Linked DNA regions of Homo sapiens: region 2 is linked to region 1. Evidence: fine-mapped expression QTL. A gene starts in region 1. The other region holds a variant in brackets. All regions are shown on one strand. Distances are from middle to middle. Region 1 holds the start of MYOD1 (myogenic differentiation 1). Region 2 overlaps LINC02729 (long intergenic non-protein coding RNA 2729).

The links.
Region 2: its variant is fine-mapped to the expression of MYOD1 in skeletal muscle (GTEx, PIP 0.98).

The regions. Positions count from the first base shown.
Region 1 is chr11:17,713,347-17,728,840 of GRCh38, reverse strand. It overlaps MYOD1 (myogenic differentiation 1), which reads right to left and starts at 9,270. Exons shown (of 3, transcript NM_002478.5): 1 at 8,429-9,270; 2 at 7,861-7,939; 3 at 6,705-7,586. The coding sequence starts at 9,058. The coding sequence ends at 7,333. RefSeq lists enhancers at 7,298-7,809, 7,810-8,321, 13,689-14,189.
Region 2 is chr11:17,680,750-17,696,243 of GRCh38, reverse strand. It overlaps LINC02729 (long intergenic non-protein coding RNA 2729), which reads left to right. Exons shown (of 2, transcript NR_132279.1): 2 at 544-977. Among named protein-coding and RNA genes, the nearest start is that of LINC02729, 8.4 kb to the left of the region's middle. The variant A/T (reference allele first, on the strand shown) is at 8,024.

The DNA.
Region 1 (15,494 bases):
CTGCTATGAAGAAATACCCAAGACTGGGTAATTTATAAAGGAAAGAGGTTTAATTGACTCACTGTTCCACATTGCTGAGGAGGCCTCAGGAAACTTACAATCATGGCAGAAGGCAAAGGAGAAGCAGGCACCTTCTTCACAGGGTGGCAGGATGTAGTGAATGGAAGCAGGGGAAACATCAGACACTTATAAAACCATCAGATCTCATTGAGAACTCACTATCATGAGAAGAGCATGGGGGAAACCACTCCCAGTGATCCAACTGCCTCCACCTGGTCCTGCCCTTGACACATGGGGATTATGGGGATTACAATTCTAGGTGAGATCTGGGTGGGGACACAGAGCCAAACCATACCACTCAACAACAAAAAGACAACCTAATTTTAAAATGGGCAAAGAATTTGAATGGACATTTCTCCAAAGAAAACATACAAATACTCAATACGCACATGAAAACATGCTCAACATGTGATTAGAGAAATGCAACTCAAAACCCACTTCACACCCACTAGGCTACTTCTAACAAAAAAGACAAACAACAGAATGTTGTCAAGGATGTGGAGACATTGGAACCCCTATATGTTGCTGATGGGAATATAAAATGGTGCAGCTGCTTTGGGGAAAAGTTTGACAGTTCCTCAAAACTTTAAACATAGAGCTGTGATATAGCTAGCAATTCTGCTTTTAGATACATACCCAAGAAAATTGAAAGCACACATTTACACAGACACTTGTACTTGAATGTTCACAGCAGCATTATTCCTAATAGCTAAGAAGTAGAAATAACCCACGTGACCAACAGATGAATGAATTAAAAAAGTGTGATATATCCGTATAATACACTATTATTCAGCATAAAAAGGAATGAAGTATGCTACACGCTGTAAGATAGATGAACTGGCTGGGTGCGGTGGCTCACACCTGTAATCCCAGCACTTTCGGAGGCCGAGGTGGGGGGATCACCTGAGGTCAGGAGTTCAAGACCAGCCTGGCCAACATAGTGAAACCCCATCTCTACTAAAAATACAAAAATTAGGCGAGCGTGGTGGTGGGTGCCTGTAATCCCAGTTACTTGGGAGGCTGAGGCAGAAGAATTGCTTGAACCCAGGAGGTAAAGGTTGCAGTGAGCTGAGATCACGCCACTGTACTCCAGCCTGGGTGACAGAGGGAGACTGTCTCAAAAAAAAAAAAAAAAAAGATAGATGAAGCTTGAAAACATGATGTTGGTGTTAATTGTTGAGGTCTAGTTACAGTGGCATATTATGAATTTTATACATGATTCCTTTCATATGAAATTTCCCAAATACGCAAATCCATAGAGTCAGAAAGTAGGTTAGTGGTTGCCAGGGGCAAGCAGGAGGAAGGGGATAGTGAAGAGTGACAGCTAATGCCTATGGGTTTCTTTTGGGGGTGATGAACATGTTTTGAGATTAGACAGTCGTGATGGTTGCATAGCCTTGTGCATATAGTACAAACCACTGAACTATGCATTTTAAAAAGGTGAATTTTATGGTTGTGAGTTATATCTTAATTTAAAAATTGGGAAAAGTAAAAGAAAGAAGGACCAGTTAACCAGGAGTCTATAATTGAGTTGCCTGTGCTGAGAATAAGCTTCTCAGTTTGTTGTGGTCCCGGTTTCCTTATCTGTAAGAGATCTGCTTCATAATCTCTTCTTTCTTTGAAATGCTTTAAGCAAATTATGAAATAATTTCAAAACTGAGACATACTTTTTAAATTTACTAATTTATTCCACAGAGTAAATGCCAAAGTCCAGGTGGGTTAAGTCCCATTCCCAAGATCTTAGAGCTGGTCAATGACACAGCCAGGCCTAGATCCCAGGGAATTATGTAGCCATTGGCATACCATAGGACTCACTTCCCCCTGCTACTGGGAAAGTTCTACATGAATTAAAACCCACTGTCACGTGTTCTCTGAAAAAAATAAGTTACCAACTACACAAAAATGACCCTGTGCAATATAAAAACAAATATTGCACAGCCTCTCATCGAATGTTTTTAAATAGGAGTGACTTGTGTGCAGTGCGAGTGTTTCAAATGCCTTATGAGAGAAAAAAAAAAACGAAGGTAGGACCAACTTGTTTTTTCATCATTATCACATCATCATCTTTGCCTTTATCTTCCTCCTCGTCTCCTCATTCTATCTACCTTCCACCTCTTGCTCCTTTTTCTTGTCTTTTTCAGTCTTGCCTACCTCTTTCCACCCGCATCCGGCTGCACATTCTTTGATTGCTTCTTCATGTGACAATGGTTTTATAATATCATTTTCTATACAGAGAATAGAGAGATTATTCAGTCTTTCCTTCAACATGGTTGATCAAAACTTGTTTTGTACCATTGATAATTTAAGGAAATTTCAGGCTCACAAGTCTATTGGAAATGTCATGTACATTTTTAGAATTGATGTCAAATTTGAGGAAACCTCAATCAAGTTTCTTTCATCTGTGGGCTGTAAAAACTCAAGGCATTTTGAGTTTTCTTGTGTGGTGACTAATTTTAAATATTTTTTAATTGACAAGTTTCTTTAATAATTGTGTTGATGATGTTGAGGTCTTGTTATAGTGGCATATTATGAATTTTATGCTATCTTTGTGGATGCCAGTAGTTTGTAACAGATCAGCAAAAAATTTAAATCTTTTCCCAATGTGTTCATGTAATTTGCCATTATTCACTGGTGGGATTATTAAACCATGCAAGAGTCTTTTCCATAAATCTATTAGAAAATTTTCTTCTTCTTTTAATAAACCACTTTTTGGCATGATCTAGATAAATTTTGTGGTTCTAATTATCTTCTCAATGTCAGAATCATTTAAATTTATATCATTGTTCATCATTATTGCTTATGTTTTATATTTCATTTATTTAAAATATATTCCACTAAACCCAAATGAAATTTATACCTTTAGATAGGACTGATCCAAACATCCCCATGAGTGCTACCCAATACAAGGGTCAGAACAGAAAGAGACAATGGTCATAACCAATTGTTAAAAGTGATTTACTTTGGCAAATTAAAAAAGTAGCTAGACCATATAGACATATTTCTAGGGTTTCCCCCAGGACCTTAGAAGGGGCTCATACGAGAGAGGGGAACTGAAGCTTAAACTTTATTGTCTTCACAGTCTATCAGCCTCTGATGGTGTGCTCTGGGTACACATGTGCTTTTGTATGAGCACATATGTGTAAAGACATATACATATGTCTCTGTGGAGAGCATGGCCCTGGTGCTTCCTCAGATCCAATGCAGGTAAAATGGCCCCATGAGCAAAGGATGTTCCATCTACACTGCAAGTGAAGTCAGGCTCAGCCAGTTGTCCCCCCTTGAGGGGACTGAGGTAAGGGACAGGCTAGGAGGGGACCTCAAACCCTATCCTCGATGGTGTGATCCAGTCTCCAGCTGTTCCCTTCCCTCTTGACTTTTCTCACTTCCTCTCTTCTGACATCCTCTGCAGAAGACACAGAGCAAGGCAGCCAAGAGTGCAGTCTCTGGAGCCCTCTGCCTGGGTTCAGATCCTGGCTCATGACCTATGCTGATCTAACTAGACTTCTTCCCTGGGAATTTTCTCCCCACTGCCCCGACAAAGATGGAGTCTTGCTCTACTGCCCAGAGCTGGAGTGCAATGGCATGATCTCAGCTCACTGCAGCCTCTGCCTCCTGGGTTCAAGCAATTCTCCTGCCTCAGCCTCCTGAGTAGCTGGGATTATAGGCGTGCACCACCACACCCAGCTAGTTTTTGTATTTTTAGCAGAGACGGGGTTTTATCATGTTGGCCAGGCTGGTCTCGAACTCCTGACCTTGTGATCTGCCTGCCTCAGCCTCCCAAAGTGCTGGGATTACAGGCATGAGCCACCATGCCAAGGCTGGGAATTTTCTAACTGGGTTTAATGGTAAGATCCATGGTAACCCATGAGTTTCTGGAGAAAACCAATATGGACTAGGAGAGAGTGAAGCCAAGCAGAGACATGAAGTGGACAGCCTAGAAGTGTGAGAGGAGCTCTAGCTCCCAAGGTGCATAGATGCCGTGGTGCTTATAGCTCTACTTCCAGATATGAGCTGCCCCGTGAACTTCCAACACACCCTCTTGTGGGGTTTAGGCTAGTTTGAATAAGGTTTCTGTCACGAAGTATTCTACACTAGATGTGTCACCATACCTGCTTCTCCTCCTGAGGTCCCTATCTGTGTAATGGCACCACCACTTACTCAGAAGCAAATCACGGCCTCAAGTCAGAAGCAAACCAGAGCCTGGAGTCATCCAAGGCTCCTCCCTTCTCTACACTTTCTAGGGCCTACACGCACAAGGCACTGTGAAGTTATGCAGGTTGTCACTACAGAAGTGCACCCAGCTGAGGAGGTGAGTGGGGGCTGAAGTCCAGCCTGCTCTCTGCCTGCCTAGTCATGATCCCTGGTGCAGGGCAATGCCCCAGGAGAGAAGGGGTACTTTTTTCTAATTACACACAGACCCCCTCTAGGATACTGGGACCCTCTTCATGTATAGAATTGCTTCCCTTGGTGCAGAACTTCTGCCTCCTCTGTCGACCTGCTTGCCTTCTCACTCCGCATTACCACCTCTGCTTACACCTGTTGCCTTTCCTTACGGTGTTTCTCATCGTTTATAACATTGTATTTATTCACTTGGTTCTTCATCTCACGGTTACTTCCCCAGTGGATTTTAAGCTGTAGGAAGGTGGAGACTGTGCCTTCAATGTTCTCTGCTGTACCCTCAACACTGACACATTATTTGGCCCAAGCCAATTCAGGATATGTCATACCTCCTCTAAGCAACCCCAGTGGCTTCCTGAAAGATCTCCCTGTCTCAAGTCTTGTTCTCTCCTACCTATTCTGCTAGCCCAAACTGGCCTTTCTAAAATACAGAATTATTTGTATCCTTCCCCTGTTTAAATTCCTGTGTGGCTCCCTACTGCCCTCGAGATAAAGTCCAGATGAGGTCCATTGTGGTCCTGCCTCTGCCATTCCATCTTCCTCTGGCCCCTCCCCATGGGCACCTGCAGTTCCACAAAGGCAGTTTTCTTTCTCTCACCCCTGGATCTTTGCACCTGCTGTTTCCTCAGCTTGTAGCCCCTTTCTTTGGCCCCTCTTTCCTGACCAACTCCTTCAAGATTCTCATTAAAGTTTACCTGTTTGTCTATATCTCCCCCAGAATAGTTAGGGAACCTTCCCCTTTGCTTCTATGGCGTTCCCCTGCTACATGCACCTCCAGTACAGTACTTAATTCAACAGGATGTAACCAGCTGCTAAAAGGTTCCATCCTAGTCAAATGTTTGTGTGCTTCCCAAGGGCGGGAACTGCATCCAACAGTCTCTGTTTTCACCCAGCATAAGACCTGGCATCTGTGGAATCAATGAATTCATGAATGGACCCCAGGGGGTCTCAAGGGTATAAAGAATCCCAAGGGACATGTGGGGAAGTGGCCAGAAGACAAGTGGAGGATCATTCGTAACACAACAGCTCTGGGCAGCTTCCTAGGCACCCTGTGTTGGGGAGAGCAGAGAATGGATCCTCAGACAGGTAATGAGGATATTCGGATATTCCTTCTGGCATCACATCTTGCCTGCATTCCTGAGGGCCCCCTACTTGGCAAACAAAACCCTTGAAAGTGGGCCTGTAGGGTTTTCAGGAACAACATATATGGGGTGGGATGTAGGAGGTCCTGAGGTCCTCATGGCACGCGTGTGTTGGGGGTGGGGAGGTGGTAAGTGAGTGGGGAAGAACCCTTGCCAGACCATCCCTCAGGGGCCTTGGACCCAGGGGAGGGCACAGGTACCTGTGTGTGTGTGTGTGCGTGTGTGTGTGTGTGCATTGTGAGTACATTGTCTACTCTTGTTTCTTAAGACAGAGCTCAAATGACAACTCTTCCGGGAAGCCCTCCCCAACACTCAGGCTAAATAAATGCCCCCTCCTCTGCTCTCAGAGAGTTTATAGCCTGATGAAGAGTACCTATGCCATCTGTGATGATGCTGGCCCACATGCCGCTCTGCTCACAGGATCCGGGCTCCTGTTGTCTTATGGAATCTGATAGTGTCGGGATGCTCTAGGTGCTGGGTAGAGGTGTCTGTGCCTGTCTGGCCTTCTATGCTATCTCTTTGCAGTTACACCTATTACTAATGGGCTGTAAGTGCCAGAGAGCTTACAGCACATGTCTACACTCATTTAGATCTTCCTCGGAATGCTGTGGGCACCCTATCACATCCTCTATACCCAACGAGGCCCCCAAGTGATGCCTGGGCCACAACCTTCCCGTGGTTCTTCTGGTTATCACACCTGGGTTCACTCACTTTATATGGAGGGGATGATTCTCAGCCTTGAATGAACTTCAGAATCACTTGGGGAGCTTTTGAAAAAAAATACCAATACCTGGCCCTGGGTATATGGGGCAGAAACATTAAATCAGAATATCTAGGGGGCGAGCTCAGACATGGGTTTAAAAAATACTCATATCAACCTGTGTACCCTTCCATAAGAGCCACGGACGTGTGTAGTAATGTAGTCAAGGTCAGAGGAACTTCCTCACGTACTGGAGAAATTTGCACCCCTCCTTCCTTCCCCAGGCAGCAGGCTTCCTCCTTGCAATCCGCCTGCCGCCTACAGGCGTCGCTGAGGGACAGCTGGCCCAGTTTGCGGATTTTCCTCCGGATCCCACACCCATGTCCAGGGAAAGCCGGAGCCACGGCGGTATAAATTAGCGCCTTTATTTTGATCACCTGAGCGAGCGCCCGCGGCTCGCCCGCCTGCGGTATAAACGTACAAATTCCCTGTAGCACCACACACCATGCCTCAGAGATAAATACAGCCCCAGGGGCTCCTGCTCTGGCAAAGCAACTCTTATTTACAGGAATAGATTACAAAAGTATTACAAAAAGTGGTCCTGAACCGGGAAACGGGTTGGGGGTGGGTTACGGTTACACCTGCTACATTTGGGACCGGAGTGCACTGGGTCTCACGCCCCCCCAAATAACCGGTGCATCCCGGGGCAGGGCTTAGGTCTGCGAGGGTCTCACCCCCATGGGGGAGGGCGCGAGAAAGCTGAACCTAGCCCCTCAAGGTTCAGCTCTGGCCCACCGAGGAACACGGAGCGGCCATCGCAATGGGTCTCCGAGAAGGGTGCTGCGTGGAAAAAACCGCGCTGTGTCCTTGCCCTGTGGGGCGGGGGCGGAAACTTCAGTTCTCCCGCCTCTCCTACCTCAAGAGAGGTCGCTTTTAAAGCGCTGTTGGGAGGGGGGCATTTAAGTTCAATCTTTTGGGCGCGAGGGACCCTAGGGGCACCATCCCTCGGGCGGGTGGGCGGCCACCATCCCCTCAGAGCACCTGGTATATCGGGTTGGGGTTCGCACCCGCAGGGCACTGCGGGGCGGCGTCCGGTGACTGGGTGGGGTCGCCGCTGCTCTCTCCCTCGCTGGGGGCGGCAGCCTCTTGCCTGCGCGGAGGCGACTCAGAAGGCACGTCCGCCAGCAGGAGGGCGGGCGCCGCAGGGCTCTCGGTGGAGATGCGCTCCACGATGCTGGACAGGCAGTCTAGGCTCGACACCGCCGCACTCTTCCCGGGCCTGGGTTCTGCGCGGGGAGGGCTCGGTTAGTAAGCAGGGGTGGGGCCGCGACAAGCCTCCCACCCCCGGGCCCAGTACTTTGAGACAGATTGGAAACTGAGGACTTTAGTTAGAGTCCGGGACAATCCAAAAGACAGGGAGCTACTTGCTTAGTATTTCATCTCCTGCACCACTTCCCAGGACATAGGCGTGTGTGAGTGGGGGTGGGAGCGTCCTAGATAGAGGCCAGGACAGCTCCATGAAGGAGGAGGAGCGAGCAGGGAGAGGCCCGGAATACCCACCGCTGGGCGCCTCGTTGTAGTAGGCGCCTTCGTAGCAGTTCCGCCGCCGGGCGCCGCTCGGGGGGCCGCTGTAGTCCATCTGCAAACAGCAAGGGCGACTGAGTCAGGCCCGCGGGACGGCTCGAGGCCCGAACACCAATTCCTGTAGCCGCCCCCTCCCTAACTCTAGCCTAAGGCTCTAGTTCCGGGCCCAGACCTGTCCTGGTTGGGGGGGTAATTACGGGTGGGTAGGAGATGAGGTCTGCAACATGCAGGGCCAAACCAAGGGCGGACAGTCACCAAGGGGCGCAAATTTACATTTTGGAAGTAGGGATAAGTAGAGAAAAAGATCTTCACGTTCGCGCTGCAGTGTTCTAATAGCGCCCCCAATGGGGCAGCTCGAACGCTTGCCCGCACACTTCCAAAACAGGCTACCCCAGTGACAGCTGCCCAGGACAAGGGGGTCCTCTCTCTCGGGAAGGATCCTGGCCCAAACCTCCCGCAAGGCCAGCTCCCCGCCCTCGGAAACGCGTCCCTGATATCCCGAGCGCCGCCCTAACTTCCTCACTTCCTGGGGTCCCGGCCTTACCATGCCGTCGGAGCAGTTGGAGCGCGGGCTGGACGCGTCGGAGTCGCCGCTGTAGTGCTCGCCGCCGCGGCCCGGGGGCAGCGGGCCCGGCGCATAGAAGGCGGCTGCGGCGCCAGGGGGCGCGGCGTCCTGGTCGCGCAGCAGAGCCTGCAGGCCCTCGATATAGCGGATGGCGTTGCGCAGGATCTCCACCTTGGGCAACCGCTGGTTTGGATTGCTCGACGTGCAGCGCTTGAGTGTCTCAAAGGCCTCATTTACTTTGCTCAGGCGGCGCCGCTCGCGCATGGTGGCGGCCTTGCGGCGGTCGGCGTTGGTGGTCTTGCGCTTGCACGCCTTGCAGGCCCACAGTAGGCAGCGGCCCGCCTGGTGGTGCCCGCTGGGCGCGCGCACATGCTCGTCCTCACGTGCGCCCGGGGCCGGGTGCACCGCCGCGGGGAAGTGCGAGTGCTCTTCGGGTTTCAGGAGCGCGCCCACGTGCATCAGGCGCGGGTCCAGGTCTTCGAAGAAGCGCAGGTCCGGGGAGTCGAAACACGGGTCGTCATAGAAGTCGTCCGTTGTGGCAAAGGAGCAGAGAGAGCCGTCGGGGGCCGTCAGGTCTACGTCGCGGAGCGGTGGCGACAGTAGCTCCATATCCTGGCGGTGGCGCGGCACGGTCCTGGCTTCGCCCAACCCAAGCGGCAGAGAGTGGCCGGAACTTTCTGCCGCTCGGGAGCCCCGGCTGTAGATAGCAAAGTGCTGGCAGTCTGAATGCCCACCCACTGTCCCCCACCCCTCCCTCTCCTGTCCGGCCTGATTTGTGGTTAAGGAAAGCGGCGGCAGCGCCCCAGGGCTTCCTCACCCCTAGCTTCTCGCCAGGCGCCCTGGGCTATTTATCCGTAGTAGCCTAAACGCCCCGGAGCCCAGGCGGGCAGCTGGGGGAGGGGGAGTCCGAGGCCAATAGGAACACTGCGGGGCGGGGCTTGGGGGGGTCCCCGGGGTGGCCGCAGGGGCCCGCAGACTGGCCAGCCAGCCCGCCCCTCCACACTGGCGTGCGCGCTAGGTCCCCTACCGGGCAGGGAGGGAGGGAGCGACCGGCAGCCCTAGGCGGCTGCACTTGGCTCTCCGGCACGCCCTTTCCAAACCTCTCCAACACCCGACTGCTGTATCCGCGGGAAACGCTGGCTGCGCGCGCTCACCTCTGAGCTGACTTTCAATACTCCTCTGTCCCCTGATTTGTGGGGGACCCATGGGTAGAGCGGCTGTAGAAATCAGGTCGTGAGAGATTTGGAGAGAGGCAAGGCATTGGGGGCACAGAGCTGAGGAGTGAGACCGTGAAAGAGGGACCGAAAGAGGCTGAGAGACACGCAGAAAGCAGAAAGCTTAGAGCGTCAGGGGCAGAGAAACGCACGAGTGCAACAACAGGCGGAGAGACCCCGAGAGTTGAAGTGGGCGAGCCCGAGACAAACGGGTCGTAGAGGCTCTGATATTCCGCCAGTCCCCGACCTGGGAGTTGCTCAGCAGGTCGTGGGCCCAGTCCTTCTTCCCTAGACGCTTAGAAACCCAGCTATGGTTGTACAGGAATCGGAGATTGCTGCTAAAGCTTCGCGCCAATCTCTCCAAACTCGGATCCTGCCCAGGTTAGGAATCCCCTCCATCTAAATCTGCACGTTTCCACAGCAGGGGTGTCCAGTGCCATGCCTGGGGTCTAGGCTGAGCTGCCTCTTCAGCTGGGAAGAAAACCCTTCTGCTCGGGGCTTGGCTCCGCCTCACTCGCGGTGCTGAGTCAAGGAAAGTGCATTTCGCCAAGGTGTCAAACTTCAGGACCTGGCCTGAGAACCTGACCTCATCTCACCTGAAGTCTCCGAGAGTGCGGTTTGCAGACCAGTTGAGTGCAGACTCCAGAGTTTCCCAACTGTGTGATTTTGTGGAAGTCATGTCTCCTTCCTGAGCCTCAGTTTCCAGTTATAGATTTGGGGATGACAGTAATTTCTTGGAGTAATTGTGGTGGGGATGACAGTCTGAAGAGACCAAGGATATGGAAGCCCTCAGGCGGTGATGTAGGGTTATTCGAGCAAGGGGCTTTCAGAGTTGGATGCTGTGTCCCGCAGGCTTACAACTCATCTGTGGTACCATGCCCTGACGGAGTGCCACGAGTCTCCAGGCCTTAGCTGTGTCTCTTTCCTGCAGCCTCACTGGAAAGGCTGGAAACAGGAGGAGGCAACCACCCCATGGGATGTGGGATATCTGGCTCCCATACAAGCCTCAGCATACCGGCCACCCCCATGGGGGTCTCTCAGCCTCTTCCTGAATCTGCAGTTCACACAGTCCTCTCAGCACTCTGGCTAGGAATCTCCGTTGGCCATACATCCCTGCCTGGATCTCCCCTCCTGGAAACCAGAAATTTAAGCAGGAGTGATCTTTGTGCCTTTCCCACTAACTTCTGGAAGGCATTCTAGCTGGCCGTTCTGGGCCCTAAGAAGTCCTCCCTTCCCACAAAACTCAGAGGGCTCTGTTGGGGTCCTAACTTCTTCACTTCTCTGCTGCTGGTAGTGGTGCTGAAGGTCTCCCTTCATGAAGTACTCACCTCGCTTTACTCCATAGGGCCCACCTGTATTTGTTCATTCAGTAAAGTCTACATCATGGAGCAGCAGTGACAGTAACTCTAAATCCTGGCAGAGGCAGCAAAGTCCTGGCCTCACCCCACCCAAGCTGCAGGGGGTCACCCGGAAATCCACATATTGTTAGGTATCCATTATGTGGCAGGTACCAGTCCAAGTGTGGGGCTAGAGCAATGAACAAAACCAAGACTCTGCTTACATGGCACTTACATTGTCAATGTAAGCAGGGTGATAGACAATGAACAAATAAGCAAGGAAGTATGTGATGCCAGGAGGTTAGAAGCCTTATGAAGAAAAAGCAAGGCAGGGAGACACAGTGATGAAGATTATGGAGTGATTAGAGAAGGCCTCTCTGCTACATTTAAGCAGAGACCTGAATGAAGAGAATTGGAAGCAGATACCTGGAGATATGTAGGGCCAGATAGAGGGATAAGCATGTGCAAAAGTCCTGAGGCAGGACCATGTTTGGCAGATTCAAAGTATGGCAAGGAGGCTCATATGTCTGCAGCAGGGTGAGTAAAAGAGATAGTGGGAAATGGGGTGAGAGAGAGAGAAACAGGATTATATTCTGAGATGGCTTGAGCCATCTCACTGGAGGGCTTGAGCGGAAGAGAAGAATATCACTATCTGATTTACATTTTAACAGGAGCATGCTGGTTACTGGAGGGAAAGGGCAGAAGGAGGGAGACCAATTAGGAGGCTATTGCAATAATCCCAGTGAGTGGAGCTGGTGAAAAGTGGTGGTTGAATTCTAGATATATGTTTTCAAGATGGAGCTAGCAGTATTTACTCACGATTGCATGTGGGAAGTGAGATAAGCAAGGAGCTAAGGATGACTCCTGCAAGAATGGAGTTGAGAAGACTAGGTTTGTGGGTGGTAGATTAAGTGTCCAGGTTTGGGCAAAATTTGAAATGCATATCGGATATCCAGATGGAAGTGTGGATTAGGCAGGGGGATTTTTAAGGCTGGAGTTCCCAAGGAGAGGTCTGAGTATGAGGAAGAGCTGTCCATTCTACCTCTAAGACCTGTCTCAAGTCAGTCCATCCCTAGTGTCACCATCCTGGACTAAGCTGTCACACTGCTGCTCTGGATGACCACAATAACCTGGCTGCCCTCCTCACTTCCTCTGTAGCCTCAGTATAATCCATTCGTTACATAGCAGCCTGAGTAGACCTTTACAATGTAAATGGGATTATGCCATCCTCCTGCTTCAAACTCCCCAGCAGCTTCTTGCATTTAGAGTAAAATCTCATCTCCATCCCCTGGCCTATCAGGCCCTGCATGAGCTAGCCTCAGCCTGTGTCTCTTACTACACCTGGAGGCACCATCCGTTTTGATTGCTCTACTCCAGTTAGCCTGACCTCCTTTCTTGTCTTCTAACACTCTGAACAGGATCCTGCCTTGGAGCCTTGTCCTTGCTGCTCTAAACTCATAGCATTATCCCCTGGGCTTTTCCCAAGATTGACTGCATTTTATATAATAGATCTTCTTGCCTCCTTGGGACATCACTGACCATTCCCTCTAAGATAACTGCCCCCCATACTCTGGTTCACACCACCCTGTTAATTTCCTTCCAGGCACTGCCACTCTTTATAATCTTCTTCATTAGTTTGTTCATGACTGACTTAGCCCCATGAAGGCAAAGATGTTTTGTTCACAATGACATTTCCAAAAACCATCACAGTGGCAGTCACACAGTAGGCACCTGATAAATGTCCAGTGAATGAATGAGTGGCCTCACGCCCTTTGCATCTCTATGCATATATTTGAATGTCTTGAACTGTGACATTAATGAAGATGGTTGAATTTCTTCAAAACTGGGAAGTCACATACATGATTAGACATCCATGTTCTATTACACTTGCTCTTCCCAGGAAAGGCTCAGACCCCATCTGCCTGGGGCATGTTCTCTTGAACTGGGCATTATACATGGCATGCTGCAATATTGTAGTGGTATACTATAGAGAGATTTGGCATCTCGATGTGTCTTCTTATTGTTTTTTCACTATACTCACAATGAGGAATGTAAGTAATTGTTGTATTGATGATTTAGAAACAAATACTTCTTCCTACTTGCTCAAGGCTCAGCAGAAAGCCAGGTGCATAGTAGGCACTCAATAAATATTTCTTGGGCAAATGAATGAATGAGTCTACTTAATTAAAGAGTACTCTGAGATTCCCAGGTGAGCTATTCAAACCACTTATCTATGCAAATCTAGATTTTCCCCAAATCTGAATAAGCAAGAAACTACAAAATAAATTGGATGCTGAGACAAGTGAATACAACTTTGCTTTTTGTGCTTTGTGTTTCTAAAAACTTCCTCAGGGCTGTCATCAAGTTGCCTTTACAATAAATAAGTAAATGTTATATGTTTGAACTTACCAAACACATTTAATATTTTATCACTTATGGCTTATAAATCTAAACTGCTTTGACAGTTTTAAGCTTGATTTGCAGCTACATCTTCTTCCATAATTAGGAAGCGCTGTTTTAAAGCACACAGACATTCTAGTGGTAAAATGCCATTTTTATATTAGGCTTTCAAGTGGGATTTTTGTTTGCTACCAGGCTTCCGTTGCTCAAAAAAAGATTGGAACTCACTGAACTCGGTGACCATTTCAGACCTCTCCATGCCTGGCATCCACACCTGCCTGGAATCACCCTTCTGGTTGCGTCTCCTCTTTGGAGAGAGGTTTGTCAACACCATCATCTCTTCCCTGCTGCCCACAGAGCAGGGAGAAGTATGTCCAACCTGGGACATGTTGTCCTTTTAGTCCCAGTGCTGGGTTGGGGGCGGAGGGAAAAAGGATACCAAGTTTGGAAGCTGAAAACATTCAAACTCTTATACTGCAGAGTCTAGTCAAGGGTGCCCTTTGTCCACAGGTGCTGGACTTGTTCTGTGAGGGGCCACTAGCAATGGGCTGAGGGACTTTGAGGGGATCCCCTGGCAGCCCCCTCACCCCTCAACGCAGGTCTGACCAGAATGGTAGGCTCTGTGCTTGGGGGCATGTGCACACCTCGCCCTGGGCCTGGCTTCTGCTGTCTTCATGATGAGGGGCTCATTTGGTGGGGAGTGGGGAGGGAGTGCTGCCTGGGCTGCCCCTTCTCCCTCTGCCCTTTCCAGTCCTCCCCTCTCAGCTCCCTTGGCTGCTCTGCCCAGGGGCTATAAATGGAGAGCTGGCCTCTGGAAAGGAATGTGGGCCTGGCTGGGCCCCCACAGTGTTGTGCCCTCAGGGAGCGGCCCTGGGGCTCCCGGCAGCCTTTATATATATAGCCTCTGGAAACCCAATCCAGCCTGCACCTGCCCCAGTCTTCACGCACCCTGCCCCTGCCCAGGCTGGGCCTGTGGCTCTGCACTGGGGCTGACACAGGCTGCGTATCTGGCCGGGAGGTGGGGGGCGCCAAAGGGCCAGAAGGTAAAAGCATGAGTGGGCCTGGTGGGGCAGGGCCAGCTCCAGGTCCCCTCTCTGTCCCCAGCCTTTCCCTTCCTGTTCCTGGGTCCAACCTGAGTGCCTCCCTCTGTCCCCTGACAAACTTGCTCCCTGGGAAAGCCAAAATCCACCCACCACATGGGTATAGATCCTTCTCTGGGCCCAGTCTGGGTTGGTCAGGAGGGACTGTGATATTGCCAGGATATAGACATGGTCCCAGATTAGGGACAGGGTCCCAGAGATTCCTCACAGAAGGCCACATTTCCCCGTTTGGGGGTACTCTCCAGCCTCCCACAGACAAGCAGGGCTTAGGAGTCTGGCAGCTGAGCTGGGAGTTGAAGAACAGGAGTCCACACTGTGGAGGGAGGGAACAGGAAGACAACCAACAGCATGTGCCCTTCCCACCCAGTGTGCAGGGGGTGGGGGCAGGGCACTATTGGGGTGGTGGGGATATTCCCACTCTCAGTTGTCCAGTCTATGATTCATTCACTTATACAACAAACATTTATTCAGGTGCTGGGAATGTGATGGAGAATGAAACAGACCATGTTCCTTGTTCCTGTGGAACTGACATGCGGGCAGGGCAGGGCAGACAATAAGCAATACACATAATAATAAATAAATTATATAGATGTTAGAAGGCGATACACGCAGAAAAATATTACAAGCAGAACAAGATGAGCAGGATTGAGGTGCCAGGTTGGGGTCGGCTGTAGTGTTAAACAGAGTGGTCAGGTTGGCAAGGTAACATTTGAGCAAAGAGTTAAAAGAGGCTTGGGAGTTAGCCATGTGGCATCTGGGGAAGAATGCTCCCGGCAGAGAGAACAAAATAATTATTGAGCACCTTCTATGGGACAATCGCTTCTGCTAGGAGCAGAGGATTCTGTGGGTACAGACAGGCATGGCTCCTGGAGCTGTAGGGGCTGGGGGGTGTGGGGGTGGCACGAGATAGAGTTTGGGCATGGGGTTTGATGGGCAATCTGTTACTTCTTCTTTTTTAAAAAATTGAAACAGAATCTCGCTCTGTCGCCCAGGC
Region 2 (15,494 bases), 33 kb after region 1:
TCCTGGGACCCCCTGGAGCTGGGCGCAGCCGGTGGCCGTCAGCGCCAGCGGCAGGGCCCCCCGCGGCACACGTGCACTCGCCGCCCGCAGCCGCACCCCGCGCACACGCCGGCGGGGCTAACGAGCCCACAGGCCTCCAGGGCGGGATGAAGCCAGTTGTCGGGCGGGGCCGCGGCGGTCACACAGCATTAGCCCTGCGGCCGCCCCGCCAGGTGCGGCCACTGCCCCTAATCCCTCGCCCCGGCACCGCTAAGCCGGGCCTGAACGACGCCACAGCTGGGGGCGGCCGGCCACGCGCCTCCCCTCACCGCAGCCCCGGCCCGGCCCCGGCCCCGGCCCTGGCCCCTCTCTAAGGCCGCGCGCCCACTGCGGGTCCCCTCCCCACGCTCTAGCGCGGCTCCCACCTCCTCGCCCTGCCCAGCGCTCTCCAGTCCCTCCCCGCCCACTGACCCTGTGCTCGCACCCCCGTCTCTCCCCAGCACCCCCACGGCCGCGGCCCAGATCCTCCCCGCTTTGCCCACCGGCCTCCATCTCTGTCCTCAGGCCCGCTGGAGTCACAAGCCCCATCCCAGACTCTCCAACGCTGGACCTGCAGCGCCCAGCCCTGCCCTGGTGCTACCACCTGCCAGCTCTGTGCCTGCCCCTCCACTAGATCATGACTTCGGCTCCAGCTCCCTCACTCTCCATGCCTCTCACTTGCGGGTTGTGCCCTGCTCAGCTGGCCAGACTTTGGCCCCCTCCCTACCTGGATTTGTGAAGCCCCAAATTTCATCTCCCCCACCACACTTATTCACAGCCTCCGCCTGCTGACATACCCAGGCAAGACTCCCTTCCCCTCCAGGCAGCCAAACTTCAGTTCGAATCTTCTGGCTCTTACCAGACCCCTGATGAATCCCAGGATCTTCGCAGGTGGTCCCAGGGCCTCTTTGAACCACAGTTTTACTTATCTGAAAAATAAAAAGGCATGATTTAGATGACTTCTGAGGACTCTCTTGCCTTTCCTACCCCAAAACACTAGCAAGGTCATGTACTTCCATTCATCTGAATATTAAAGACAGATGAATATGGAAGAACAGCCACTGGCCATGTGTCCCCACCGGAACCCTTCCCATCCCTTAGCTCTCAGGGTCTGAGCTAGCCAAGGCAGCTTTTAGCCGCTGGCGTAGGGTGGGTAAGAGGGAACAGGGTGGAACCTGGTTGCTTAGGTCTGGGCCAGGACTTGGTGTCTCTGCCACCTTGGGAAGGATGTCTCCTAGAAGGGTGTGTCTCTGAGGCTGGCCTGCTGGGGGTCCTGGCCTCAGGCACTGCCAGTATTAGTGCTGATGGACAGCCCCAGCAGGTGGGAGCCGGCTAGTCCTCCCCAACAGCCCTGCCCACCTGTTACCCTCTTTGCTCGGGTGACCGGCTGCTTGACCCACTGACCAACTTCTTGCTGCTTCCCAACACCCTGGGCACGGTTCTCAGTGCCCCACTCCTCTCCCTTCAGCTTTTCCCAGCAACATCCTGGCTCAGAGCACACAGCACGCACATATCATGCATATGCACATTCACATTGCACACATAGTCACACGCTAATATAGGGCTGCATGCATGCGCACCCCGCATCTGAGCCTGCTTCATATTCATGCAGGCTGAGCCAAGTTGCTTCTCTCCAGGTGGAGAATATTGGCATTGCCATCTCTGTGGCAATAGGACCACATGGTTAAAGCAAAGGCATTAAGTCTGGATCACTGGATGCCTGTCCTGGCTCTGTGATATCCTAATGTGTAACCTTGTCAAGTTACTTAAACTTCCTGCACCTAATGTTCCTGATCTGTCAAATGGAGCTGATTATATCTCATAGGATTTTGAGACTCAAATGAGAAGATCCATGGAAAGTGCTTAGAACAGTTATCAGTACCGTGGAAATTCACAATACATGTTAACTGTTAGTAGTAGTATCCAGGAGGGACTGAGGGTCTCCTGGGAATACCTTGATAATGTTCCTTTAGTCATCTCTGGCCATAACTATTCAAATGGTTACAAACAATCCTGATTGTATTTTTCTTCCACTTATGAAGCCTGTATCAATTGCCCAGATGAAATCAGGACATGCCATTTTCACAGCCTTACCTTTATCTTGATAATGATTGTTCATCCTTTGCTGTTTAAAAGCCAAGAAAACTGGTAAGCGTAGGCCTAAGTTGTTTAGAGAACTCTGGGCTGGGTCCTGGAGCTCACACATCATCCCTTTGGAATCTGTTCTAGACCCTCTCCCCAGATCAACATCAGCACCCTGATCTGTGTGTCTTGGGATCCACCTTATTCTTTCTGGAAATGAAGGCAATGTCTGCCACCTCCCATCCCCCAGATCTCAAAGGTCACCAGCAACTCCCATTTCACCTCACGTGCTCCCAGGACTCAAAGTGGGATTTCTCGGGCCTAAAGAGAAAAATGTACTTGGCAGAGCTCTGAGCTCTAGGACAATCTCTCCCCACGTCTCCTTCTTCAGTCTACTCCAACCAAACCTAATTCCATTCGTGGCCACATTTGAGAAAGGAATGCCACAGCTTGAGGCTCATGGACCTCAATATGAAGACAATAGCTGCAGATGAAGCTGGAGAGTTCTGCTTCTCTACCACCCTCAGCCCCAACAGAAGCCTTCTTTGTTCCTTTTCTTACCCTGAACAAAACAAGAAATCCTTTTTTGCTGCCATTAGTAATTTCCTAAGTCTCACTCCATTGGGGTCCTCTCCCTTCCTGCTCCCTTTTCTGAAGCCATCTCTTTGGTTCAGCTTCAGGTGTTTGCCCTGTCTCTGATTTTGGTATATTCTCTATATATTCTTTATTGTAACTATTAGAGAGTATTATAATCTCTTTTATAATCTTTCCTATGTTAGTTACCTATTGCTACTTACATTTAGCAGCTTAAAACAACACATTTATAGTTGTACAGTTTCTATGGGTCAGGAATCCAGGATCAATTTAGCTGCAGTCTGGCTCAGGTCCCTCACATGGCTGCAGTGAAGGTGTTGGCTGGGGTTGCAGTCATCTCAAGGCTTCACCAGGGGAGGATCCATGTCTAGCTCATTCACGTGGCTTTTGGCTGGAGCTGATGCTCCTTGCCATGTGGGCTTCTCCATGGGGCGACTCCCAACATGGCAACTGGCTTCTCTTAGAGTGAGTGAACTGAGAGCGTGCACCCTAAACAGAGCCGCGTCTATTTATAACCTAATTGTGGAAGTGACAACCCACTACTTCTGCTGATACTCATAATCAGAGGGAAGTGATTACAGTGTGATGGGAGGCGAGGATCACTGGGGACCATCGTAGAGGCTGCCTACCACATTTCCCACCTGGCTTCTCCATGTGCTCTTGTGCCTAACACAGTGCCCTCAGTAGATGGTTAGCACTCAGTAGATATTTGCTGAAAGAATGAATGCGAGCATCAGAGGACACTCTGCAGAGTTTATATAATTCTGTATTGTTCTCTCGGGCTACTATCCCCCCTACCCCTGGCTTTTCCCGCATTTTTCTTCTTTCTTGGAATCATTTGCATTTAAAATTTAAACTTATTTTATCCTTGAATAGCACATTTTCTCATAGGAGCCTATTTATCTCCTCCCCCCACTTTTTGAGATTTGCCTTCCAAAAATGGGGACATGCTTGGCATATATCTCATGTGGATAACCCCTATGGTGAGCACCTATGGATAACCCCTATGAATAACACCTATGGATAACCCCTATGGTGAGCACAAGCTCAGAAATGACTGGGCTACTTTCTTTATATAACTGGTCAGAAGGAACCTGTCTTCATCTAACCTGTCTTCATCTAACTGGTCAGAAGAAGCCATTCCCCATGTCACATCCTCCCAAGTGTTCACACCACGTGCGCTTACCTTCCCTCTTACGGCTCTCAGCCTCCGGAGCTTCCTGGGTTTTGTATGGGTCTGCCTTCCCGGTAAACAATGAATGACCCCTTACAGAGTAGGAACCGTTTAGCAAACATTCAATGAGCACTCACTGAAGCACGCATTATGTACTAGCACTGGCCTGGGGACCATGGAGACAAACGAGTAACTCATGGAACCTCCAGCATGTGGATGGAACAGGTGCTTGGGAATGCTTGCTCCTTCCGGGAGATCAAATTGTCAGCAAGTCTACCTAAACTAATTCTCAGATACTGTAATGGCAGAATTTCTAGGAATGGCTCCCAAGACTCCACACTCACTGGAACCCGTAAATATGATACTCCCCTGACTGTGCTATGCTATGTTGTATGGTACAGTTGACCTTAGAGAGGGGAGATTATCTGAGGGAGTCTAATCTAATCTCTTGAGTCACCAACAGCAAAGAACTCTCTTAGGCTGGTGGCAGAAGGCGAAGTCAGAGAGATTTGGAGCATAAGAAGGACTTGATGTGCTGCTGCTGGTTTGAAAAAGAGAGGGCCATATAAGAAGGAATGCCAGTAGTCTTAAAGTGCTGAGAGACAGCCAGCCAGTGAGGAATAGGGACCTCAGCCCTATGACCACAAGGACAGTAATCTGCCCACAAAGTGAACGAGTTTGGAAGCAGATTCTTGCAATATGTCTCATGCCCACCCCCAACACCTTGATTTCAGTCTTGTGAGATCTTGAAATTAGAATTCAGCCAAGCCCTCCCAGACTCCTGACCTACAGAAATGTGAGCTAATAAATGGGCATTTTTTAAGTGGACAATTCAGTAGTTTTTTAAATATAGCCATAAAATTGTACAACCATCATTTCTATATAATTCCAGAACATTTTCATTGCCTCTGCCCCCAAACAAAGCCCATACTTATTAAGTAATCACTCTACATTCCCCCAGCCCCAGAAATCACTAATCTACTTTCTGTCTCTATGGATTTGCCTATTCTGGATATTTCACATAAATGGCATTGTACAATATGTGGCTTTTTGTGTCTGAATTCTTTTGCTTAGCACGTTTTCAAGGTTCATCCAAGTTGTAGCATAGATCAGTGCTTCATTTCTTTTTATGATTGAATAACATTCCATTGTATGGATATACTACATTATATTTCTCCATTCATCAGTTAACGGACATTTGGTTTGGGCTGTTTCTGCTTTTTGGCTATTATGCATAAAGCTGCTATGAATATTTGTGAGAAGTTTTTGAGTAGTCACACATCTTCAATTCCCTTGGGTATATACCCAGGAGTGGAATTGCTGGGTCATATGGTAACTCTATGTCCAACTTTTTGAGGAAGGGTCAGACTGTTTTCCAAAGTGACTTCACTGGTTTAAGCTCCCACCAGGAGTGTACAGTGGGAATACATGCACACCAACACTTGCTATATCTGTCCTTTTTATTAGAACTATGCCAGTGGGTATAAAGTAGAATCACATCATGGTTTTGATTTGCATTTCCTTAATTACAATTGATGTTTTGTAGGTATTATTTTAGGCCACCAAATTTGTGGTAGTGTGTTACAAAGCAATAGAAAACTAATCTAAGTGCCTTCTTTTACCCAGGTGGTAAAAAAGGAAATGGAGCAAAAGTTGATTAAAAAAAAAAATAAGCCATTTGAGTTGAGTGGCCAAAGAAGGCAATAAATGACATTCTCATAAAGCAGGTCTGGACTGCTGCGAGTGTGAGGACAGACATCTAAAGTTGAGGCACAGGGCTAAGTCAAGAACAAGGGCAGTTTACTCAGTTATGAAGGTATGAACAGCACAGCAGACATGGAGTGAACCAGATGAATATTGGTAATAAGTTGCTTCTGCTGTTTTGCTAGTTTCCATTTGATCAGCAACAAGTATGGTTATATTAAAGGTGCCTCAAGGTCTGAGATATGTTTGATATTCAGCCACAAGTCCCTTGTAGCAGGACATCCAGATGGATGAAGACCCCATCACTTCTTAAAATACATTTCTGGGCAAGACCCAGGACATGTTTCAATATCTCAAACTCCACTTCTTTGATCTGGCCAGGGGAGCTTTAGAGGACATTCCTCTCCACTTTACAACTTTGATTGATTGATTCCATTCGTTCATGAATGGGCCAAGTTCTGTTCTTGGCCCTGAGGACACAGCAGTGAACAGATCCCATGAGGCTTATGTTTTAGGTGGGAGAGTGGTCAAGAAGCATAAAGTTAATACAAAAGTGAATTATATACTTGCAGAGTGTTGGTGTTATGCAATTTAAAAAGAAAAGAAAAAGCAAACCAGGGTAAAGGAGCTCAGGATCCAGAAGGTGGGAAGGTTCAACTGCAGTGAAAGTGTGGTCAGGGAAGGCCTGCTGAGATTTGAGCAGACTTGAAGACAGTGAGGATTTGGTAAGGTAGATATCTGGTAGAAGAACGTTCCTGGCAGAGAGAAAAGTTACAACAGAGGTCCTAAGGCACTATCATGTCTGTTACGCTTGAGACACAGCGAGGAGGTTGGTGCACCTGGAGCAGAGCAAGGAGGAGAGTAGAGGAGATGAGGTCCGAGTGTTAGTAGAGCCAGACCATGCAGAGCCTTGCAGTCATTGCCAGGACCTTGGCTTTTAGGTTGAGTGAAATAGGGGCTTTGGAGGCTTTGAGCAAAGAGTTACGAACCCTAGCTTAGATTTTTAAAAGGATTCTTCTAGCTGCTGTGCTGAGAATAGATGGGGTGGGGGTGTGAGGTTGGGGCAAGGGCAGAGGCAAGAGGGCTTGTAGAGAGGGGTTGTACTGCACTAACCCAGCTACAAGACAACCATTGCTTGGTTGACCATGGTAACAGGGGTAGGAGTAGGAAGTAGTCAGCTTTTCGATATAGTATTTGAAAGCAGAGCTAATGGAATCTCATGACAGAGTAGATGTGTTAGGAGTAGAGAGGGGAGACAAAGAAAAGATTAAGACATAGTGCCAAAGTTTTTGCCTGAGCCACATGAATGAGGGAGTTACCCATAAGCTGAGATGGGAAAGGCTGTATATATAGTGGGTTTGTGGGTGATCAGGAATTTAGTTTTGGATAGGTTAAATTTGAGAGGTCTATTGGATATCCAAGTGATTGATACCACATAGGCTGATAGATACGAGTTTGGAGTTGATTGAGAGATCTGGCCTGAGGATAGCCATTTGACAGTCATCAGCATATAAATGGCATTTAAAGCAAACCTGAAACACAATCCTTGGTGCTTTTGACATATAGGATTGTTTCCCTTCCCCTGAACAAATTCATTTTCTTTGTGCCCATGAAAATTTCTATTTTGTTTCTGAGGGGCGAGTCTTATCCTACCACATCTTGGTGAAGTTGGAAAGGTGCATTGATTTTGCTGACTTAAAATCTCAAGCCCCTGGGATTTATTATTCTACTCCGATCTCTGTCACTACATTATTCATCTGCCTCTTCTCCAGGTGACGTCTCTGAAAAACAGGGCAGCATCCCCACATTGCCCTTCTTTCTGGGTCATACCTGTGGATGCTATGCCAGTGTTATTTGGCCATCTTTCTACCTCTTCCTGCATTTTCAGTTTGTTGATAGTTCTGAGTCAGATCGGAAAGCTCTTGGTGTGGGCCCCAGCATACCGTCTGTATAGGGAGTGTTAGATGGTGTTTTTAATTCAGCAAGTCATAGGATTTTAGGCCAGTCCTGTAGACCATGCTCTCAGGGGCAGGAGGTGAGGCTAGCTGCCAAAGATGCCTCTACTGCCCCAGCCCCTCAACACAGGGATTTGGGATGTGCCCCGGGATGAGGTGTTCCTGACTCTTGTCAGTTGACTATTCTCTGCCCATTTCAGGAATAGAGACACAACGGTCTGGGGTGGGTGCGGCATGTGAAACAGACGGGATTGGAAGTCAGGGCGTAATAAGAAACTGACATCCGGGTCCCCTGTCTTGTGTCACTCTGGAGTAGAGATTTGGGGTCTCCTAGAGTCACAGTGAAAGTGATTGAGCTGGAACACCCGTAGGAGCTTGGCCTGGTTCCTCTCTACAAGCCCCCTGCCCTTTCCCTCCTCTGGGTTCTTGCTTCCCTCTTCCCGCGGGCCTGGTTGTCCTGGCCTCCTCCTCCCCTGCTTCAGGAGGAGAGGGGCCA[A/T]TTCAGGGCCCTGTGACTCAGGCGCGGGTTGGGGAGGATGTTTTGGATGCCGCTCTGCTGACGCTGGTGCCCTCTGTTCTTACATCCTCCTTAATTTACTGCCTGAGGAGGGGGCCAGGGCTCTGGAGAGGGGATTAGATGGTCCACACTGATCTGAGGCAACAGCTGCTGGGCTGGCGGCCGAGGAGTGAGCAGTGAGCAGGCGGTGGGGGAGGCTCATGCCTCCATCAGGGCCGGAAGGGAACTAGGCAGGCATCCGGATGGTGCCCTTAGGTAAGGGTGGCTCTGGAGGAGGCTGCTCTTGGTCTGAGGGATAGGGCTACAAGGCCTGTCTGGTCAATAAGGTCAAATCCAGGTGTCACAGGAAGAAGGCCTAGAGGGCCAACTGGTCAACCATCTTGCCAGCTTTCTGGAGAATATTGGGAAGTGTTTTCTTTAGCCTCCTGAAATCCAGAAAGGAGAATATTGGCTCTGGGGCCCTGGTTCAAAGGGAAGTCTTGCCAAGCTCTAAGCTGTCATGTAGTTGCATGAGAGGCCCCCTAAAGTCAAAGCTGTTACACACCAGTTGGAGTGATCCCTTCCACCATGATGGCACTCTTCTCTCATTGACTCTCCACTCACAAGGCAGAAGGCAGACTAGACAGTGGCATTTCCATTTGACAGATGGGGCAACTGAGACCCACAGAAGGTGAGTGCCTTGTCTCAGGTCACACTTGGTGTTGGTAGAATGGATATGATTACAGCCCAATGCTCCTAACTAAATTGCTCTGCTTCTTGAATAGCAGTGCAACACATTGATATTTGGCACTGGAGGCCAGCATCTCTTCTTCCTTCTAGTTCATAATTCCACGTGATAGTTTTGTCTAACAGAAAATGGCCCAAACATGGGAGCCATAAGCTTGAACTCTTTGAATCAATTAATGTCCCCTTTTGGAGACTTGGTTTTCCCGTCTGTATTATGGATATCTTGAATAGCACTATGACTGTCCTCAAAAGCATAGCAGTCTTGTCTTAATCACTCAAAGGACAGGAAAGACACTGGGGATCATTAAAAATATTGCAGTGAAGATTTGGGCTCTGGAGTCAAAATATCTAGGATCAAATAAAATCTCTGCCACTTACTAACTTTATTTTACCTAGTGAGTTTCTTCCCCTCTTTGAGCTCAATTACGTCATTTTCTGCAGACAAGAGGTAATAACACCTATCACACGTGGCTGCTATGAGGATTAAAAGACAATGAATGCTAAAGGCCTAGCATTGTTCTTGGGGCATAGTAAAGCTGAGTGAATTATAGAAAGACTAGTGGTAATAGTACTTCTTGCTTATTGATACATGGAGCCACTGAGATTGAGGCAAGAACTCCTGGGCTAGTGGACGGTTTAGAGCAATGCTTCTCACTCCTGCTGACCAATCAGGATCATTGCATTGGAGATGGATGCTTAACAAGGTTCCTAGGCGATCCTCAGGCTCTCCTGAGGTTGGTAATCACTATCATAGAGGACCTGCTTTGATGGTGAGATAATTACTGTATCAGTTGTTTGTAGGTAAACAGGTGCTCAGACATTTAATAGTTTAAACATTTTCCCTGATTGGCACTTTCACTACTAATTAACTCCTAAAGAGCTCTTCCTTTTCTGGGTCATGAGCAGGAATTCCCCACTGGGGGTTCCCAATTAATGAAGTTTGCCCAGCTTGAGGGCCTCTGGGAAGCAGGCAGGACTAATTATTCTCTACCACCCTCCCGCACTGAAAAAAACCCTGGCCAAATCCTCTCCCTATCCTTCATCAATCTTGTCCTGGCCTCCAGCTGGCTTGCATTAGCTCTGGTTTTCCAGCCCCCAGGGCTGCGGCTGTAGTGGAGGGATTGAGCCAGTCCAGGCTGGATGGATCTGTCACCTGATCCTGGGTCTGTGCCGCAGCCAGTCCTGGAATCTGGGGCAACGTGATCCTGCCCTGCGGGAGCCCCTAGCCAGGCCAGGGACGCCATGGTGGGGCTCAGAACATCCTGGCTGTCCAGGGACCTCTGTTTAAGCCCGCAAGGATAACATCCGCAGACTCTCAGAGCTCCTCCTGTCTAAGCCCCTCACCTTAAAGAAAAGAAAACTGGAGCCTAGGTTGGTGAGGCACCTGCCTAAGGTCACATGCTTGTTCACAGCAGAGCCCCGGTCTCTCTCCTCCTACTGCAGGACTCTTTTCCTGGCTCCTCCTGGAGAAGTTTGTCTGCAGACCTATTGTCTGCATGATGGGATCAGATATGGAGGCTCCTGCTCAACCCCAGACACCCAAAGTAGAGGAGGTCAGGGGAAGGAGGGTTTTGGACTAATGCACATGATCCTTTGACCCAGATTAAATAAGTCGAATTTCAGGTCATTTAAAGGAGAAATTTGGAGAGTAGCAAGAATGGAAATATGGAAACAATTGAAATAAGGGTGATAAGTTTTTAAAATATCTTTTATAGATACTGTCATCTTTTAGTACAATTCAAGAACATAGATGGTTTGGCTGTGACACATGGAGACACTCTCCTCTGGAATCTGAGTTTGCTTTTTACCATGTCCTGCTTGCTTCACCCAGCAGTATGGAAACCCAGACCATGAAACAAACCTTTATAGAGGAAAGTTTCATTTTGTTCTTCAGTTGTTGAGGGAAAGGTCAAGATAGTTCTCCAAAGACTGATCTTTTCCACATCATTCCATTTTTTAATGCCTGGATATTTTTGCATCTCACTCAGACCTAATTCTCCTGTACCTGCTAAATAGTTTGAGCCAAATCTCTAGGACAAGAAATGGTTCTGTTAGAGTTCTGAGGGCAAGGACAGTGGGGGCCATATCGCTATCTGGTCTTGGTCTTAAAAGTACTGAGATGCCAAGCAGCTCTTAACTAGAGAAGGCGAAATGGCCACCTTCCCTTAGGGGCAGCCTGGAGCTCAGAGCTGGCTTCTGGCATGAGTCTTTGAGGGTGTGAAAATGTGCCTGCCCTTTAGTAAGAGTGGTCATTTGCTGAGAAAGGACCTACTATATCCCAAGGGCTTTGCAGACAATTATTTTGTAAGGTTAAGTATTTTAATCCCTATTACACACTTTAGGAAATGGAGGCTTAGGGCAGTCAGGTGATATGTCTAAGGCTACTAACCTACCAAGTGGCAGAGCCAGGATTTGAACCCAAGTTTATAGGATTCAAAAGTCAGTAGGTATTTCTTCAATGCCTTTTGGGTAGAAGTGTGGAATACCATATATCCCAGTTTGGTTGAGATACACTGGATCCCGTTTCTTGCTCCCTTTGAGTTTATTTCCCTATTGTTTGCTCTCAGAGTTCAGAAAATTGTTTAGGAAGGTTCCGTTGAGTGTGTGTAGCCTCTGGTGTTGCACCACAAACCCCTGGCCTGCCCCTGATTTCAGCCACAGCAGTAGTGGACAGTTCTGTGCAAGCTTGGACTCAGTCTCAATGTCCTACCGCAAGTAGGAGCCAGAGTCTTTCCAGATTCTGATCTGAGGTTTCTTTCACGACACAGAAGCTTGCTTACAACCTGCAAATGCTGCCTAGAGGCACAAGGCAGTTAACTTCCCTAGAAACAATTTTCAACCAGTAAGGGGAGATGGTGGATAAAGACTCCGGGTATCACCTGTCAGGTGCACACTGCAGGAGACGTTCTATAAACTTTTCAGAGATTCCAGAAGAATTGAGCCCCTACACCTATAGACATGAGTCCAAGGAAACACCCTCATTTTAGATTTTCCTACTTCCCTATCTCACTCTTGCTACTCCTATCTATCTGTGTCCTCAGATCACCTTCCAAGTAGATAACATTCAACAAGTCCTTGTCTCAGGTTCTGCCTTCTGGGCAACCCAAACCAAGATGGTTTGCCTGTGCCAGGAGGGCTGTTTGAATTGGGGAGCAGCACCATGAGGGGTGGAGGGAGTGACACCCGGTGACAGCAGTAGGAAAAAACTTTACACAAGGTAAATTCTAAGGGTTGTAGCAGCTGGGGCCTCCTATCCTTCTCTGGAGATTCTCCCCATATCAAACTCCTGGAGCTCCTGAAGTTTCTTTCCAAGAGGGAGGCATCGCATGGTTTGTGGGGGCCTGAAGACATGTGATTTCTTGACATTTGTGGCAGTGGGTGGGATCCTCACTCAATATGGTGATTTAGGAGGGGGTTAGAAATGTCCCTAGGCCCTTGGTGATGGCTTCCCTGGACTGCCAGTTGACTAGTGGGGTTGTCTCAAGCAGTGACTATCAGCAAGGCTGTCCCTGGGATGACTGACACCTGACCGCGATTTCAATTAGTCAGTTTCATTGGTCACAGAGCCTGGATCTTGCAGGACACGGGGCAGGAGGGCTGTTTTACCTGGTAGTGTCTTTGGACCTGATATCCAGCTTCATCCTAAGCCTCTGTATAAAAACAAAGCGGGGGAATTTAACCAGGCAGAAAAATCAATTTAAATGCTTACAGAGAAACAGTAAGGCCCAACACTGCCGCCTCATTTTCACGAGGTGAGTCACTCAAACCGTTGACCTCATGGCTGATCTATGAGCAAAGGCGTGCTGGCAGTTGCTGCTGGCACAGGAATGGCTTCAGACCTGTTTCCTGGAACCCTGGCGCCAGGCAGAGCTCAGAGTGGCCTTTTGCCATTAGGTCAGATCACCTCTCCGAGGAGCAAGTTCCCAACACAGAGATGCAGGCTTTCCTGTGACTCTGTGACTGGTCAGTTTCACTGAATAATCCCCTTTTCTCAGTTATTGCCTGGCCGGTTTAATCACCCATCTGTCACAATATGCAGCTCTCATTGGTCAGGTTCACCATATGCTCTCCAAAGCCCTTGTTCTATGATTGGTAAATTCCACCATCCAGTCAGCTGAAATGAACCTCTGCTTGGTCAGCTCTCATAAACCGTCCATCCAGTTTCTAGGCTAGTTCCTGCTATGATCATCTGAATTTATGCTGCTCTCATAGACCTAATGTGAGCATTCCTATTTCATTCCTTTTCCCTGTCCTGTAGGTTTAGAAACAAAGGTTTGGAGGTGGAAAAGACCTGGGTTTGAATCCCAGCCCAGCCACTTATTAGTTTCATAATTGTAGACAAACTATTTAACTTTTCTGTGCTCCAATTCTAATAGCTAAGAGCCCTGGAGTCAGATGGGTTCAAATCACAGATTTATTATTTGCTGACTGTGTGATTTCAGATGGGTTACTTAACTTCTCTGAGCCTCACTGTTTTTGGCTATAAAATAGGGATATTAGTAGAACATACCTCAAGGACTTGTTGTGAGGATGAAATGCCATAATTACTGTAAAGTATTTGGCACACAATAAGTTCTCAATAAATGTTAACTCTTTTTCTTGTGTATTTAGAAGGAAGGAAACATGAAGAACAATAAAGACCCAGCCTTATCCTCAGGTAGCTAAATATTCTGTTCCAAAGGTCAGCCAATGTGCAGACCTGGGTGATGGTCAGGACAACCCCAGCAACAGGTCCCACCTGGGCTTGTCCCTTACAAGGTGCAGGCAGACACTCCAGGTGTGAGCCAGAGGGCCAGGAGGGGCAGCAGGATGTATAAGAACATTGCGTTAAGATCAGTGACTCTGAAAGACCCACATGAGTCAGAGAGGGCAATACTATTGGCTATTAATTATGCTAAAGCACTCAATAATTAGCATGAAAGCATTAGCAAAGAAACAAACACCCACTTACGTAGGATTCAGATACAGGATCTGGATTCAAACACATGACTGCAGAATCAGGATGTATAACAATTATTACAACGAAGGAGGTAAGATCTAAGGTTTCTGTTTTTTCCGTTCTGTTTTGTTTTGTTTTGTTTTGTTTTTTTGAGACCAAGTCTTGTTTTGTCACCAGGCTGGAGAGCAATGGCACAATCTCGGCTCACTGCAATCACCACCTCCTGGGTTCAAGCAATTCCCCTATCTCAGCCTCCTGAGTAGCTGGGAATACAGGCATGTGCCACCACTCTGGGCTAATTTTTTGGTTTTTTTAGTAGAGACAGGGTTTCACCATATTGGCCAGGGTGGTCTTGATCTCCTGACCTCGTGATCTGCTGGCCTCGGCCTCCCAAAGTGCCGGGATTACAGGCATGAGTTCTAAGGAATCTTAAAGTGCATCTTTGCACTGCTTTATTAATATGATTATCTGCCAGTTGCCCAATAACACTTAATTACCATCCTACTAGTCTTTAATTGGTTAAGCAGTGACAAGACCAAAATATATCATACAGATAAAGATAAAAGCATCAGTGGGTTTACAAAAAGGGCACAAGAAATTGTTATATTGGTTAAATTCAGCTTTTGGAATTCAGACGATTTTGACAAAGAATGTTTCTTTTGCACTTATTACTCTAAAATCTTTGGATTGGACTATAATAATATAGACTATTTTTATGTGCAAATAATATTTTATGTGCCTATAATCATATAGCCTGGATTATTTTTATGTGCAAAAATTATGTGTGTGTGTGTGTGTGTGTGTGTATATATATATATATATATATATATATATATATATATATATATTCAGTATATTGTGAGGCGCTGTGAAAACTGGTTCTCGCCTGCCCTTTGCCAGAAGAATCTGAATGTTTGTATGAGTATTAGCAAGGATGAATGCTGTAGTGGTTGCTAGCCCTTTGAGACTTGGCTGTTTGTTACCTGAAAGTATATAGAAAACTTTGTCAGAATTATATGGCAGGGATCTTCTATAACTTAAAAAAAAAAACTTCCTGATACATGTTTCTATTCTAAGTGGTTTGGGTTTATACCCTACAGCATTTCTTTTTCTTTTTTTCTTTTTTTATTTTTGAGACAGAGTCTTACTCTGTCACCCAGGCCGAAGTGCAGTGGTACAATCTCAGCTCATTGCAGCCTCTGCCTCCTGGGTTCAAGAGATTCCTTATGCCTCAGCCTCCCGAGTGGCTGAGATTATAGGCAGATGCCATCATGCCTGGCTAATCTTTTTTTGTATTTTTAGTAGAGATGGGTTTCACCATGTTGGCCAGGCTGGTCTCAAACTCCTGTCCTCAGGTGATCCACCTGCCTTGGCCTCCCAAAGTGCTGGGATTACAGGTGTGAGCCACTGCTCCCAGCTTCAGCCCCACAGCATTTCTCCCATCGACTTTCAGGCTGTTGGGCTGAAGTAGGAAAGGAGAAAGAGATGATGTAAGAGAAGTCCCTTTAGACAGAAGGGGAAGCAGAGAGCTCTTCCTGAAAGTATAAAATAATATCAGGATGCTGCCTTAGTCCAGGGATACAGGGGAGAGGAGAGAGGATGGATGCCCTGATAAAACCACACACTTCCAAGTTTTAGGAAATGCTACAAGAGTTTGTGTTGTGGTTGCATTTTCTCCCTGCCCCACTCATATGCTGCACGCTGTGTCTAGACTGATAGCCAGAAGCAGGCTTCACATGCTTTTAAAGGGATCCAGAAGCATCTTCATGGCTGCGGCAAGCAGAAAAG